2 separate regions of the Homo sapiens genome follow, and region 1 is linked to region 2. The links come from fine-mapping of genetic effects on gene expression. Tissue or cell type: whole blood. Region 2 holds a variant in brackets; the other region holds the start of a gene. All regions are shown on one strand. Distances are between the middles of the regions.

Region 1 (8,184 bases), 62 kb before region 2:
TATAATTATCCTATGAATAACCAGTACTATGACGTTAAGCCTTAGGGTTTTTTGTATTTATTAATAGTGGGGTACAGATGGTTTTTTTTAGTGTACTGTACATTAATTATTAATTATCTCTGGTCTCTGAAATCCTGTCATAAACCTTCCCCCTTCCCCTTATATAACAATGCGTATGAAGCATGATTTGTCTGCACTGACTACAAATAAGCTGTTTGGCAGAACAAGTCTGTTAACGTGGAGAAGGAAAGAAATTACATACTGTTTTTTAAAGTAACCCCAGCTGGCTAATTTAGAAAGCAATCTGGTAAACAGTCCCAATGGAACATCTGCACAAAACGAGAAAACAGAACCAACAAAACAAACGAAAAAGGGAAATTAATGAAAGAGTGAAAACTTACCTAGCCTTTCTTTAATCATTTAGAACTTTAAGATTCCTTTAATTCTATATAAATATATTACCTCCAAATTGTACACTGGTAAGAATACAATAAAACAGCACACATGCTGTTGCAAGTTTTTATTGAGGCCATTTCCCAAATTACTAGCTACTACCTATGCAAAAGAATAGTTCTTAAATAAAGCCAGCTTCTAAAAATCCCAAACATATCCCTTGGCCTCATCTACAAATATAACCTGTACGACATGGTATAAGTGACTAATAATACATGCTGCTTTTCTCTGTTGGAATAACTCCTCCCCTATAAAACCCTACCTTATTTCTGAAACAATGAGCACTACAACATACCCATCTCCCTCCTACATACAAGTTAAAGGTACTCATTGGGCATTCTATCACTATTACTTAACTTTTTGTGTGTCATCTCCCTAATCACGTTACTGGCAGTTGGGACTCACCATGTTATTTAATACATTTCACATTCACTTACTGATCAACTGTCTCCTACCACTCCCAGGCAGACAGACATACATAAGGATAAGAACTTTGTTTTATTTACAGCTGTAGCCTCAGCGCCTATCTAAAATAAGTACTCAAATATTTTCTAAACGAATATTTGTTGACTGAATTATAAAACAATTTGACAGATGAAAGCTATATAAGCAAATGACAAATCATTTAAAACTATTAGAGCTAAAATGCTAGTAGTTCAAGAGTTAATTTACCAATCAGATTCTTTAAACTGGTGATGTGGTTTACAATGCCTGTTCTCTTGTGTGCTACTATGAGATCTCCTCTTCCGCTTGTGACTTCCACGATAGCTTTCATGTCCCCAGCTTTCTCTGCTATCCCAATCAGGACAGTGAGTTCTTTTGGAATGCCGCATCTGTTGATAGAAATGAAAAGGGAATTGTGGAGGTTACAGATGTGTGATAGGTAAATTATTATATATTAATATTATTTAAGTTATCAAAACCCAACACACAGGGTCTTACAGGCTCCAAAATCTTTTTAGGTGGTAATGCTTCCCAAGGCACTGGTATGTCAGATGACTGCTAAGAGGCATAGAGATCTAGTATTAAATTGTGGGTAATACTGATACCTTAAGACATTTTTTTTTTTTGAATTCTGATTACAGCCAGGACAAATTCTCAGCTTGGTGCTTGTCTTCAACTAACACTTGCTAACTGCCTTTTTAAAAATTAAAAAAAAGCCGGGGGGGGCAAATAAAAAGGTTCAGGCCTAGTGTTTCCAGCAGACAAGAGTATTTAGCTAAAAATTAGTAACGTTTTTATTTATCTTATTTTGTTACTTTCTACTTATTAGTGATTTTCCAATTAAGTTATTGACATATTTTCTTTTAAAAATGTTAACATTAAAATGTGAGCTGATTTAAGGAGAAATAATATCAGTGTCATGCAGCTTTGGCAAAGTACTGTAATACAAATAACTGAAGTGCAAGACAAAAACACTTAGGGATACTAAATATGGGAGGTGACTTTGTTTTAATGGTAAAGAGCTATTCAATGATGAAGCTTCTTTTTCTCAAATTCTCCATAGTTCTTTTCTCTAAATCTCAGAATGACTCTAAGCTTTGAGAATATTAGTTCTGTGTGGATAGAACACAATATTCAACAGAGAAACTGAAGAGATATAAAAAGGTGATTTTAGGCCGGGTACGGTGGCTCATGCCTGTAATCCCAGAATTTTGGGAGGCCAAGCCCAGGAGTCTGAGACCAGCCTGCGCTACACATAGTGAAACTGTCTCTACAAAAAAAATTTTTTTAAATGTTTATGTGATTTTATGAACTCATTTTCTCTATCCAACAAGTTCATTTTCTTATCCAGCAGTTATTCTTAACCTTAAAATCTATTTGTAGTAAATCTGGAGTAACTCTGAAAAAGAACTCAACCTACAAGGATGCACACTGAAGCATGGTCACAGTGAAAGCAAACGATAACGGTGACAGCTGACTTTATTTACAAACTCCAGTGCATAACCTGGGTTCCTTCCAGGCTCAGCATCTGCGCTCAAACAATATAACCCCTATCTGTCTCTCCCCATCTTAATTATTTTCCAAAACAGTTAAGTTTTAACAGTCAGGTCCAAATTCTCCTAAACAGGGTGAGTTTAAATGGTAAAAAGAGAAGAATTTCACAATTCAGCAAGGAGCTGAAAAAAGCTAAAATGGAGTAAAACCCACTCAGTTAACCTCATTCAGCTTGCCCAAATGACTAATAAGCAAACAAATGCAAGCAGAAATTTAAATGATTTTAAATGGATTAAAGGTTTTGGAGTGAGGCAGCTTCAATTCTTCTGGGAGGTATTCCACAAGAAAGTATGTGTCACGCCATCAGAGTCTGATTGCCACCAGATAGTCAGATATTTTAATTCACTCTCTTGCTGATTCTAATTCTATACCCATCAAGCATCCTTCTAAGGTGGCTCTCAGCTCACTTTACAGAGGAAGAGAAGGCACTGATCAGGCCAAACAGCAATTCTAAAACTCTTGTTAGCGTCTCAATGGAAGTGAGCATTCCGGTTTGATACAAATGGAGTCACTTCCATATGGGAACGTGACATGAATAACAGCACACATTTACTTGAGGCAAAAGGCCAAAACACAAACTTTCTTCATTAGAGCTATCAAGAAAAATTTATGGCTGGACGCAGTGGCGCCTCATCCCTTGAGCCCAGGAATTCGAGACTGGCCTGGGCAACACGGCGAAACCCTGCCTTTACAAAAAATACAAAAAATTAGCCGCACATGGTGACTCGAGCCTGTAGTCCCACCTACTGGGACAATCACTGGAGCCCAAGGAAGTCAAGGCTGCAGTGAGCCATGATCACGCCATTGCATACCAGTATGGGCGACAGTGAGACCCTGTCTCAAAAAAAAAAAAAAAAAAAAAAAGAAAATGTGTATTTCAAGTGCAGTTCTTCTGAAGCGTTCCGTCAAATACCAAAGTTGTATTTTAACCACATCAGGAACTCAGCTTGGTTAAGCATTTTTAAATCATAGCAAGCAAAATCACATCTGATGACCGAGCGTTATTATTATGACCCTCCATTACTATGAAGTTTTTTTCAAGACTTATGTATCTTCTTCAGTTTTGTTTTTTCCTCTTCTACTGTAAGTCTGCTTACAACCAGCTAACCTCCAGCAAAACAGAACTCTCAAATTATCAGTTAATATGCAAACATTAAAATAAGAACGAGCTCCGTTGTGAGAGTCCAAAATTCTTCTCAAGTTCACTACTTCAAATGTAATTCAGCTGTTAGTCCCAGCCTCTGACCTCCCCCACTCACCCTGCAATGTTCAAAAATATTTTATCTGGAGGCACAAAGATCACCCGACCCACGTTCTACGTGGTAAGGTTCCTTCGCATACATAAAAAAGAAAAGCTATCTAGAATCATGACACTGCCTCTAATAAAGCATCCCACATGCTAGAGTAGGTATCTTTCAAAAAATAATGACACAATGGATCTCATATGTAGATCCATCGCCACTGCCCTTAAGATCCTGTAGTTCTTGACAACTTTACGCTACGTACATGGCTTAAAAACATCGAAACAGGTTATAAGTTTAGGATTGGATGGCTCCAAGAGGACTGCATTTAATGGGTTACAAGCCTGTAGGGGTGTGTAAAAAGCACAATCGCACAGGACAGCTATGAGGCAAGACAAAGTGGCTGGCGAGTTCAGTTTGCGGGGCGGTTTCCTAAGGATCGGATAAGCCTATCTGGACTATTTAGGCAACCAGGGATAATAAGATGCAAAACCACCAGAAACGCAGGTTCGCTGCAACAATGTTGTGTTCAGCATAGCACAGAGGACTAGCCTCCGCAAATTTCCACCTCTCACAAGCAGCTACTGCCCTCAACCACCTGGATTTGCACGGACGCCCGGTCCCCACCTCCCGGCTCCTGGGCACCCGGCCAGTGCCTTTGGCGCACTCAAGACAGGGGCAAATGCTTGACTCTGGAAAACCCCCGAAACGCTACAAACGGCCCAGGCCAGGAATCCAGGGGAAGACTTGATCTCCGACAACACGAATGCCAGAGACGGCTCTCGAAGGGTCTCCCGACAGGTCCTAGCGCCCGCCGGCTGGAAGAGGTCCCGACAGGGTTAACCAACAGCCGCGCTCGCCAGGCAGCAGGGGACCGCGAGCCCACGGCCTCCGGAGCCGCGACGCGAGCGGCCAGGGCCCTCAGAGAAGGGTCAGCGGCAGAACCGCGACGCCCGAGCAACTTTCGGTGCTGCCGGCGTGCACCAGCCGAGCAGCGCCTCGCAGAACTCCCAACTCAGCTCCAGAAGCCCAGGCCCCTAACGCGGTCGTTTCTCCGACACCTGGCTCGGAGACCTAAAGACCGACAGCCGCCTGTCCCAGCACACACCATCTGCAACCCTACCTCCGCAAAAGCAAATGGCCCTTCGGCCGAGAAATGTCGCCAAACTGCCGTCTTCCCTCCTCGGCCGCTGCGACAAACACCCCACAAAATGGCGGCAGCGCCGTCGCCCTAGAATCCCCCGAGTCGCCTCTAGCACCACCTACGCCGCGCGAACGCGCCTGCGTGACAGAACCTTGCGCGCTCCCGCCGCTCCACCTAAGGGCGGGGCTCCACGTGACGTAAGAGCGGGGCTCGAGCCTCCACACTGCGGCTGCGCGGCCCAAGCATTTCCACCCCCCCCCCCCCGCCCACCCGGTCCCGGGGCCTCTAGGCCGGGAGGGTGTTTACGTTCTCTACGGGCTCGGGTGGAACCGGGAAGGAACGCCCGTGTCCCGCCCTCAGTGTGTACCGCGTGTCTGCCCCCTCCCCCGGGACCTCAACTCCCGCAGCCGGCACCCGACAACGGCCCCAAAACCGCCTAGGGCGGGCCTTGGCTGGTCCCTGGGCTGTTCCCTGGACTGGGTGCTTGTCCTGCCCACTTGGCGCTTCCAGTCTAAGGTGGATTCGGACAAAGAGGCTGTCTCAGAAAACAAGCTCAAGGGGTGCTAATCTTTTCAAGGCACGTGCTCCTATTCAGAACAAAACAAAAACCCGGAGGTTTCAATGGAGACTCCTGACAAGGTTTTCCTGTTAGGATCCCTACCTCCTGAGCAGTTAAGGTCGCTGGAAGTTTCCCTAACGAAGTTTTCCCCATTTTTTTTTGTCCCTGCGGGCTGATTTTATTCAAGGCTGAAAAATGTCTCTGAGCTAGTGATAGTCCGTTATGGGGCTTGCTTACCTCAAATAAGGTATTCTGCAGTTCTGAGGACCCTCAGGCAGTTCCCCCGTGTAAGTATGTAACATGAGAAATATTAGGGTCAAAGTCGGAGCCCTGTGGGGAACACTCAAGGGCCAGAGGGAAAGGGGCCTGAGAAGGAATGATCAGCAGAGGAGGAGAACCAAGAATAGGGTGTCAAAGCAAGGAAGGGCGTAAGTGAGGGAAAGGGTTTAGGTGAGACTGAAGATCGTGGGGGGGGACGGCGGGCGGGGTGGGGGTTGGCTTCTGTATTCTGACGGGGATTCGCTGGATAAAAGGGAAAGCTAGAAATCAAATTTGGGAGGGTAGGGTTGAACTCTTGCGGGTATTAGCCCAGTAGCATGTGGGAGACCTGTTATCCTGTTAGGTGAAAGGAGGGAACGGAAATACCTTTAGTGATCTAACATGATAGAAACTTGTGCCATCTGGTTTGGGTAAGTAGGGTAAATTTAGATAAATCTCGGAGATTGTACAGCATTTCAAAAAGTAAGTTGAATTTTCATGGAGATTGCACTCCAAGAAGCGAAGTTGAAAAGAAACTTGGAAAACTGGAAGGGTAAACTCTTTATGCTACAGAATGAAACAAATGATATTATTTTCATCTAGAATAGCCACCATTTTTGCATCTACAAATTTAAATCTTACTCATCCTTGAAAGGCCATTTCTTTAAGATGCTGTCTCTGACATGAGTTCCCACCCATTTCCCGGCTCCTGACTACTCCAGTTAGATGTGAAGTCCTCAAATAGTGGAGTATTTGGAGCCACCTGGTATGCTAACAGATTTTGCCCAAAGAGTGAAATGTATTGGTTCTACAATTGATTACACATCCCGTCTCAAGGGAATCTATTAGATAGAATGTTGAGCTGACTGGTCTGGGCGATAATACAAGGTAGAGTGGGGCTCAAATTGCAGCATATGAGAATGTAAATTCAAGCTGGCACCAAAGAATGTTCTCCTGTTTCATGGAGTAGGAGAGATCCTGCCTCCTGGGGTTATAAGAAAGTGTGGTCAGGACAGCCCACAATTCTGCTCAAAAAAGCAACACTATGTTAAAAAGCAGCCACTTGAAATGCCACCTACAGAGGCCTTTATATTATAGACGTCACACACACTGTTACCCAATAGTAGAGTCTGCTTTGTAATTACATTCATCTCGCTTTAGTGTTTTAATTTGTATGCCACCAAAAGGTCTAATGTTTAAAAGTGTGTAGTGATCAGAAGGAAGCTGAGAATGACTAGCACCTCTATGCTATGTGATGCAGCACTATGGTGCCCCTAGTCACTCTCTGTGGCTTTGTGCTGAGTTTGGAGACAAGGACCTGATTTATATTGTCTTTGGTATCTCAGGCCTAGAACCCAGTAAATATTTGTAGGTTGTTTACATAAGCTGCTTTGGGCCATTTTGCTCAGTTGGTTTAAGGTCAAAGTGAGTAAGTTAAAGGTAGACATTTCATCCCAGCATCACTGCACCAGTTAGCTTACCACCCTTTCGTGGCAGCCTCAACCCTTCCTATTAAGTCAGTTACCTGGCAAGACTTAATGAAAAGGTTTATCTAAATTTCTGAGAATCTACTACCAATACCAGAAACACTGCCTAATCCAGTGGTTTCATCTCTACACAAGAACAGTATGTCCAAAAAAACCTTTGAGTTAACTGATGTGTCCAAGCAGCTAGTCAAAGGCTGGGCACAGTGGCTCACGCCTGTAATCTCAGGTTGCAGGCAGAGGTGGGTGGATCACTTGAGCCTGGGATTTCAAGACTAGCCTGGCCAACATGGTGAAATCCCATCTCTACAAAAAATACAGAAAAAAAATTGGCTGGACATGGTGGTGCATGGCTGTGGTCCCAGCTACTCGGGAGGCTGAGGTGGGAGGATGGTTTGAGCCCAGGAGGCAGAGGTTGCAGTGAGCCAAGATCGTGCAACTGCACTCCAGCCTGGGTGACAGAGCCAAACCCTGTCTCAAAAGCAAAAACAAAAAGAACTAGTTTAAGAATTTTTTTGGCTGGGCACGGTGGCTCACGCCTGTAATCCCAGCACTTTGGGAGACCGAGGCAGGCGGATCATGAGGTCAGGAGTTCGAGACCAGCCTGGCCAATATGGTGAAACCCCGTCTCTACTAAAAATACAAAAATTAGCTGGGCATGGTGGCGGGTGCCTGTACCCCCAGCTACTTAGGAGGCTGAGGCAGAAGAATCGCTTGAACCCAGGAGGCGGGGCTGCAGTGAGCTGAGATCGTGCCGCTGCACTCCAGCCTGGGTAACAGTAAGACTCTGTCTCAAAAAAAAAAAAAAAAGAAATTTTTAGCTTTGAAGAGCAACCAAAGGAATATTCTTATCACATATTCTAGGATATGTATACGACATGCTTAACTTCAGACATCAAAAACACTCATATATGAGAGCCAGGTTTTAGAGTAAAAGTCTAAATTATTGTGTAAATTAAACAAAAGCTTATTACCGTATAGAGTAACCTTTACAAAGGTATAAACCTTTGCAGTTATAGCCTCTGTTATTAGCTGCTGGTTACTGAT
Region 2 (8,184 bases):
TAAATTTGCAGCTAGTGGTTACTGTACAGAAGAGCACAGATCTGTGGTAACAGGAAGGATGAGGATGTGGGTACTTGTGTCCATGTGGTAATAGGAGCTGTAGAAATTCTGTTTTGTTCTCTTTTCATTTCTTCCCTTTTTCACTGAAGTAGAAAACACTGTTATCAAGTGAGTCCAAATCCAGTAAAGAAGTGTGGAGGGACTGAAGAGAAAGAAGTCGTCAAGATCGTCTCTTGGAATAGTAAATGGTTGAAAGATTTCATCCATTTTATTGCCTTGATTAGGTTATGCTCATCAGATCCCCCAAATCTCAAAGCTAAGATTCATTGCTCATTTTCCATGTCAGCTAGTATTAATACTTTGAGGTTAAGAAACTTCTGAGGGATTACAGACCTAGCTTCTTTCCAGTGAATCATTTTGTCCATCTTAATGATTGTGGTTTAGCCTTTTTCGTGCAAAGATTTTCAGCTTTATCTTACATAGTTGAGAAACATATTATACAATGAGAAACATTTGAATCTTTCACACTTGCCAGTCCTAGATTATTTGGGTCTTCTCATTTCTTTTTAATCCCTGCTTGCTAAATTTTTTTGGATTCATCTTTCCTTCAGAGTTCCTTGTCAAATGCAGAACCAACTAATAAATAAACCACACAAGGCCAGGCTTGGTGGCTCACGCCTATAATCCTAGCACTTTGGGAGGCCGAGGCGGGCAGATCACCTGAGGTCAGCAGTCCAAGACCAGCCTGGCCAACATGGTGAAACCCCATCTCCACTAAAAATACAAAAAATTAGCCAGGCATGGTGACGCACACATGTAGTCCCAGCTACTTGGGAGGCTGAGGCAGGAGAATGACTTGAACTTGAACCAGGGAGGCGGAGGGTACAGTGACCCTAGATGGTGCCTCTGCACTCCAGCCTGGGCAATGAAGCCAGACTCTGTCTCAAAAATAAATAAATAAATAAATAAATAAACAAATAAATAAACCACACCAGTAATCATGTATTTCTCAGCCTCTTTACTTAAAGCTAACTTTTTAGGTCCATGCCTTCTATAATATTGCAGGATACAGTTTTACAAAAAGGTTTCCCACTACACGACATGGGTTGTCAACTTGATATCATCCAATAGGTTTCTTAGCCACCTGCTGTCTGGACCCAAAGGCAATGCCTTATGTTTGCATATTACTGCATGCAAGTTCTATCAGTTAGCTTTGCGGCAATCACAAACGGTCCCGAGTCTAAGCAGCTTACGTTAGACAGGTTTTATTTCTCTTACCTGCTACTTGTGAGCTGCAGCTCCGTTCCTGTGTAACACACATGTCTTCTTTACCCCAGTCTGAGGTATTCCAGTACCTGCGCTGAATGAGCAAACTGTCATTCTCTGGCAGAGAGAAAGCAGCAACGGCGTTGGCTCTTAAAGCTTCTCTTCAGAAGTAGTGACTATAACATCTGCTTACTAGTCATTGGGCAAACCAAGTCTCGTGGCCAAACTCAAAGCCAATGGGTCGGGGATGCATACTTCTCCCTCCTTGGGAGTCTGCAAGTCGGTGACGGAGGGGAGCCAGCAGAAGCTCTCCACGCCCTATCATTTAGGATTTCTATGACAGCTTCATTATATTGGCAGGATTGATTAAATCATTGGTTGTTGGTAATTAACTCTGCTCCCTGGAGATTGGGGAATGGGCCAAAAAGTTCCAAATCTCTAATCACCAGGTTGGTTCCCTTGGCAATCAGCCCCTGTCCTGAGGCCGTCCAGGAGCCCCAAGCCACCCGTCATGTCATTAGCATACAAAATTGCTTTGGAGATTCCGAGGGCTTTAGAAGTTGTGCGTCAGGACACTGGGGCAGAGGCCACATATATATTTTCTTACTATATGCATGTAGTTGAAAGTTTCTCTTTCCAAGAATACCCAGTCCATTTACATTTAGTTAATTATCTACATAGGCAAGAGGTAGCCCACCTTAATCCAATCACTCATTGAGCTGGATCCAAATTGGTCTTCACTGTATGTCAAGCTCAGCCCTGCTGCTAGGGTGTAAACCTACAAGGCTCACAGCTAAATACCTGCGGTGTTATCGGCCCCTGAACTCCGGCTTTTGTCTCTACTGTGCACAGATTTTCTGCCTCTCAGCTCCTGCTTTCCAAGCGGCAAATATTCACAGGGGAGAAGTCACTCCAAAGGCCAGGCTGGCTTCTCAGGGCTTCCCTCCTGTCTGTGATGGAAGCCCCATCACGTGACCGGGCGCGGCGGCTCACGCCTGTAATCCCAGCACTCTGGGAGGCCGAGGCGGGCAGATCACGAGGTCAGGAGATCGAGACCATCCTGGCTAACACGGTGAAACCCCGTCTCTACTGAAAATACAAAATTAGCCGGGCATGGTGGTGCATGCCTGTAATCCCAGCTACTCCGGAGGCTGAGGCAGGAGAATCGCTTGAACCTGGGAGGCGGAGGGAGGTTGCAGTGAGCTGAGATCACGCCACTGCACTACAGTCTGGGCTCGAAACTCCATCTCAAAAAAAAAAAAAAAAGAAGCCCCATCAACGTCTTGGCTGCCTTAAGAGCTCCTTAATTCCTTCAAAAATATATGTTTTCTGTTTTGACTGACTTTTCTACGTTTCTTTAGCAAGATAATTGGTCTGAAATCAGCTATTTGACAATTTCTAGGATAATTTTTAAAATTTTTCATTTTCTGGGCCAGGCGCAGTGGCTCATGCCTGTAATCCCAGCACTTTGGGAGGCCGAGGCAGGCAGATCACGAGGTCAGGAGATCGAGACCATCCTGGCGAACACGGTGAAACCCCGTCTCTACTAAAAATACAAAAAAATTAGCCGGGCGTGGTGGCGGGCGCCTGTAGTCCCAGCTACTCGGGAGGCTGAGGCAGGAGCATGGCGTGAACCCAGGAGGAGGAGCTTGCAGTGAGCCGAGATCGCCCCACTGCACTCCAGCCTGGGTGATAGAGCAAGACTCTGTGCAAAAAAAAATTTCTTTTTCTTTTTTTTCCTCTCATGAACTCTGCTACAAGAGAAGGTTTTGAGTATATTTGATTTCCCTCAACATTTTTTTTTTTTTTTTTGAGACAAGCTCTCACTCTCTGTCACCCAGGCTGGAGTGCAGTGGCCTGATCTCAGCTCACTGCAACCTCCGCCTCCCGGTTTCAAGCGATTCTCCCGCCTCTGCCTCCAGAGTAACTGGGATTACAGGTGCCCGCCACCACGCCTGGCTAAATTTTTTTATTTTTTAGAAGAGACGGGGTTTCACCATGTTGCCCAGGCTGGTCTTGAATTCCTGAGCTCAAGTTAATCCTCCTGCCTCGCCCTTCCAAAGTGCTTGGATTACAGGTATGAGCCACCGCACCTGGCCGGATTTCCCTCTACTTTGATAGAAATATATGATTATGGACGGGCAC[G/C]GTGGCTCACACCTGTAATCCCAGCACTTTGGGAGGCCAAGGCGGGCAGATCATGAGGTCAGGAGATAGAGACCATCCTGGCTAACATGGTGAAGCCCCGTCTCTACTAAAAATACAAAAAATTAGCCGGGCATGGTGGCAGGCGCCTGTAGTCCCAGCTACTCGGGAGACTGAGGCAGGAGAATGGCGTGAACGTGGGAGGAGCTTGCAGTGAGCTGAGATCGCGCCACTGCACTCCAGCCTGGGTGACAGAGCGAGACTTTGTCTCAAAAAAAAAGAAAAGAAAGAAATATATGATCATATAAAAACAAAATGAAAAACTAAAGAGTATTATTTCTAGTAAAATAAAAACTGTTAAAATTTGGGTCTATTTTCAGTTTGATACTATTTTCTGTTTATGTAACTTAAATCACTTTAGTTTTCAGAAAATATATCCAGAAAAAAATTATTTTCTTCAATTTATTGAGGCATAATTGACAGAAAATTGTATCTATTTAAGGTGTACAACTGATGATTTCACATATGTTAACACTTTAAAATGATTACCCTGGCCAGCCCTGGTGGCTCACACCTGTAATCCCGGCACTTTGGGAGGCCACAGCGGGAGGATTACTTGAGGCCAGGAGTTTGAGATCAGCCTGGGCAACACAGCGAAACCCCATCTCTCCAAAAAAATACAAAAAATTAGCCAGGTGTGGTGGCATGTGCCTTTAATCCCAGCTACTACTCAGGAAGCTGAGATGGGAGAATTGCTTGAACCTGGGAGGCAGAAGTTGCAGTTAGCTGAGATGGTGCCACTGCACTCCAGCGTGGGTGACAAAATGAGACTCTAAGTAAATAAATAATAAAATAAAGTTATTACCATGATAAAGTTAATTAGCATGCTGCATTAGTCTGTTTCGCATGGCTGTAAAGGAATACCTGAGGATGGGTAATTTATACAGAAAACAGGTTATTTGGCCCACAGTTCTGCAGCCTGCACTAACACGGCACCAGTAACTGCTGGGAGTCCGGGGAGGCCTCAGGAAGGCTTTACTGTTGGTGGAAGGCAAAAAGGGAGCAGGCATGTCACATGGCAAGAGAGGAGGCAAGAGAGAGATGCCAGGCCCTTTTAAACAATCAGATCTCTTGGTAACTAATAGAGTAAGAACTCACTCATGACCTCAAGGACAGCACCAAGCCATTAATGAGGGATCCACGCCCATGACCCAAACACCTACTAGCCCTTACCTTCAACACTGGGGATTGCATTTCACATTATGAGATTTGGAGGCAAATATCCAAACCACAGCACTTACCCAATACTTCCCACACTTACCCCCTCCCTTTTTCGGTGAGAACACTTCAGATCTACTCTCTTAGCAAGCTTCAGTATAAAATATAGTATTATTAACTATGCTCACCGTGCTGTACATTAGATCTTTAGAATTCCTTCATCTTATAACTGAAAGTTTGTACACTTTGATCAAGATCTCTCCATTTCCTCCCCCACCTCCCTTCCCGGCAACCACCAGGTTGCTCTGCTCTCTGCTTCTATGAGTTGGAAATGTTTCTTCTTTTTAGATTCCATATATAAGTGATACCATACAGTATTTGTCTGTCTCTGTCACACTTCACTGAGTATAGTGCCCTCTAGGTTCATTTATGTTGTTGATAGGCAGGACTTCTTTTTTAAAGTGGCTGAATAATATTCCGCTGTGTGTGTATGTGTGTCAAGTTTTCTTTTTATCCATTCACCTGTCAGTGGACACTTAGATTGTTTCCGTATCTTTGCTACTGTGAATAGTGCTGCAATGAACGTGAGATGCAGATCTCTCTTCCAGATCCTGGATACATACCCAGAAGTGGCACTGTTGAATTATGTGGTAGTTCTATTTTTAATTTTTTTGAGTAAACTCCATACTGTTTTCCAGTGAAATAAGACAGTCAAAGAGGTTTTTCCATATCTTGGTACCAGGAGCTTTAACTCAGGTCCAACTCACCGTGGGCCCAGCGGGTCCCGGAACCCATTCTCTGGTCATTTCCCGGGTCCAGATGTGTAGTTGGAACAGACGTGTTCAGCAGCTAGCAGAGTTTCCACACGGGTTCCCTGAGCTATAAAGTGAGGGCAATTGTGATGGGAAAGGACAAATGGAAGGCGTTACAGCCATCTCTACCTAGAAAAATACTAAAACAAAAAACACACCAATACTGCCTTCCTGGAGGAATGATATAGATGAGTGCCATCATCAAAGACTTGAAGTATGGAGGGGTGGTGATTCCTACCCCACATCCTTGTCCAACTCTCCTGGCCTGTGCAGAAGACAGATGAATCCTGGAGAATGATGGTGGATTCCCAGAAGCTTAACCAAGTGATAACTCTAATTGCAGTTGCTGTACCAGATGCTGTTTCATTGCTTGAGCAAATTAACACATATCCTGGTACATGGTATGTAACTATTGATCTGACACACACCTTTTTCTCCATCCCTGTCCAGAAGGCCCACCTGAAGCAGTTTGCCTTCAGCTGGCCAGGGACACCTTCACTGTCCTCCCTCAGTTTAGATCAACTCTCCAGCCCCATGTCACAGTGTGAACCCAGGAGGCAGAGCTTGCAGTGAGCCGAGATCGCGCCACTGCACTCCAGCCTGGGTGACAGAGCGAGACTGCGTCTCAAAAAAAGGTATCGATTTTAAAACTTGATTTTTTATATATGTATATATTGTGCAATGAGCACCATAGTCAAGTCAGTTAACATATTTATCGCCTCACATAGTTAACCTTTGTGTGTGTGTGTAAGATGAGAACACTTAAGATCTACCCTCTAAACAAATTTCAGGTATAAAATACAATAGTGTTAACTATAGTCACCATGCTGTACATTCCATCTCCAGAACTTACTCATCTTGAGTAACCGGAAATTTACACTCATGACCAGCATCCCCCCATCCCCCCACTTCTCCCTCCCTCCAGCCCTGGAAACCACCATTCTACTCTCTTCTATGAGTCTGACTATTTTAGATTCCACATATAAGTGAGAGCATGCAGTATTTATCTTCCTGTGGCTAGCTTATTTCACTTGCAAATGGACTTTATGAAGCTAGTATTATCCTGATACCAAAACCAGAAAAAGACAGTACAACAAAACTGTAAAACAGCATCTTTCTTGAATACTGATGCAGAAATCATTAATAAAACATTACTAATACATCAATAATAGATGAAAAAATTATATGATGGACAATTGATGTACTCCAGAGATATGAGGCTGGTTCAATGTTTGAAAAATCAATCAAAGAACAAAGTAGGAAGAATTAATTTATATGATTTAATAACTTATACAGCTATAGTAAACAAGGGTGTGTGATATTAGCAGAGTGCAGACCAATGGAACAAGGTAGAGAACCCATGACAAGAACCACACAAATATGCCCACCTAATTTGTCACAAAAATGCAAAAGAAATTCAACGCAGAAAAGATAGCCTCTTCAGAGAAGAGCAACTGGACATTCACAGGCACATACACACAAAATGAACCTTAACCTAAACTTCACAAACCTTAATCACAATTTAACTCAAATGTACCAGGGACTTAAATGCAAAATGTAAAACTATAAAACTTTAAGAAAAATATAGGAAAAAGTCAGCCGGGCACAGTGGCTCAAGCCTGTAATCCCAGCACTTTGGGAGGCCGAGGCAGGTGGATCACGAGGTCAGGAGGTCAAGACCATCCAGGCTAACACGGCGAAACCCCGTCTCTACTAAAAATACAAAAAATTAGCCAGGCGTGGTGGCGGGCGCCTGTAGTCCCAGCTACTCGGGAGGCTGAGGCAGGAGAATGGCGTGAACCCAGGAGGCGGAGCTTGCAGTGAGCCAAGATCATGCCACTGCACCACTCCAGCCTGGGAGACAGAGCAAGACTCCATCTCAAAAAAAAAAAAAAAAAAGAAAGAAAAGAAAAAGAAAAAGAAAAATATAGGAAAAAGTCTTCAGGATCTAGGACTAACCAAAGGGTTCTTAGATTTGACACCCAAAGCACTACCCATTAAAATGTTGGTAAATTGTACCTCACAAAGTCTTTTCTCTGTGAAAGCCCATAAGAAGGGCATGAAAAGACAAGCTACAAACAGGGAGAAAGTATCTGCAACACCCATATCCCATAAAACGAATATCTAGAATATATTTTAAAAAACTCTCAAATAATAACAGTAAAAACAAAAATCCAATTAGAAAATGGCCAAAACCATGAAGAGCCATGTCACTGCAGAGGATATGCAGATGGCAAATAGGCATACAACATGCTCCGTATCATCAGCCGCCAGGGAACTGAAAATGGAAGCCATAAGTAGATATCACCGCTTTGTCATGCTGTGCAGAGGGGCCCTGGGCAGAGGCCAGTCCCATCATTCTAAGCTCTGCTAAGGCCCTCTGCGATGGACACTCTGAAGGCCATTCTATTCGCCTTTTAATGAATAGTGACAAAACAAAATGCTGGTGAGGATATGGAGAAACTGGTTCACTCATACATTGCTGGTGGGGATGTAGAATGACACGGCCATCTGGTAAAGAGTTTGGCAGTTTCTAAAAAAAAAAAAAAAAAAAAAATTAGGCCAGGCGCTGTGGCTCATGCCTGTAATCCCAGCACTTTGGGAGGCCGAGGTGGGTGGACCACCTGAGCTCAAGAGTTCGAGACAAGCCTGGCCAATATGGTGAAACCCTCTCTCTACTAAAAATACAAAAATTAGCTAGGCATGGTGGCAGGCGCCTGTAATCCCAGCTATTGGGGAGGCTGAG

Alleles and levels. Positions count from the first base shown, and alleles are read on the strand shown. Sizes are in standard deviations (SD) of each study's normalised expression.
As copies of C replace G in region 2, the expression in whole blood of the gene that starts at base 4,920 in region 1 goes down (small effect, 0.39 SD a copy in GTEx).

The links. PIP is the estimated chance that this variant, and not a neighbour inherited with it, causes the effect.
Region 1: it holds the start of CLK4, and the variant in region 2 is fine-mapped to the expression of CLK4 in whole blood (TOPMed, PIP above 0.99).

What each region holds. Positions count from the first base shown.
Region 1 is chr5:178,622,131-178,630,314 of GRCh38, forward strand. It overlaps CLK4 (CDC like kinase 4), which reads right to left and starts at 4,920. Exons shown (of 13, transcript NM_020666.3): 1 at 4,816-4,920; 2 at 1,126-1,286. The coding sequence starts at 1,286. RefSeq lists enhancers at 3,866-4,546, 4,279-4,888, 7,956-8,184.
Region 2 is chr5:178,684,100-178,692,283 of GRCh38, forward strand. It overlaps a transcript of MSANTD5 not described here. Among named protein-coding and RNA genes, the nearest start is that of MSANTD5, 9.6 kb to the right of the region's middle. The variant G/C (reference allele first, on the strand shown) is at 3,412.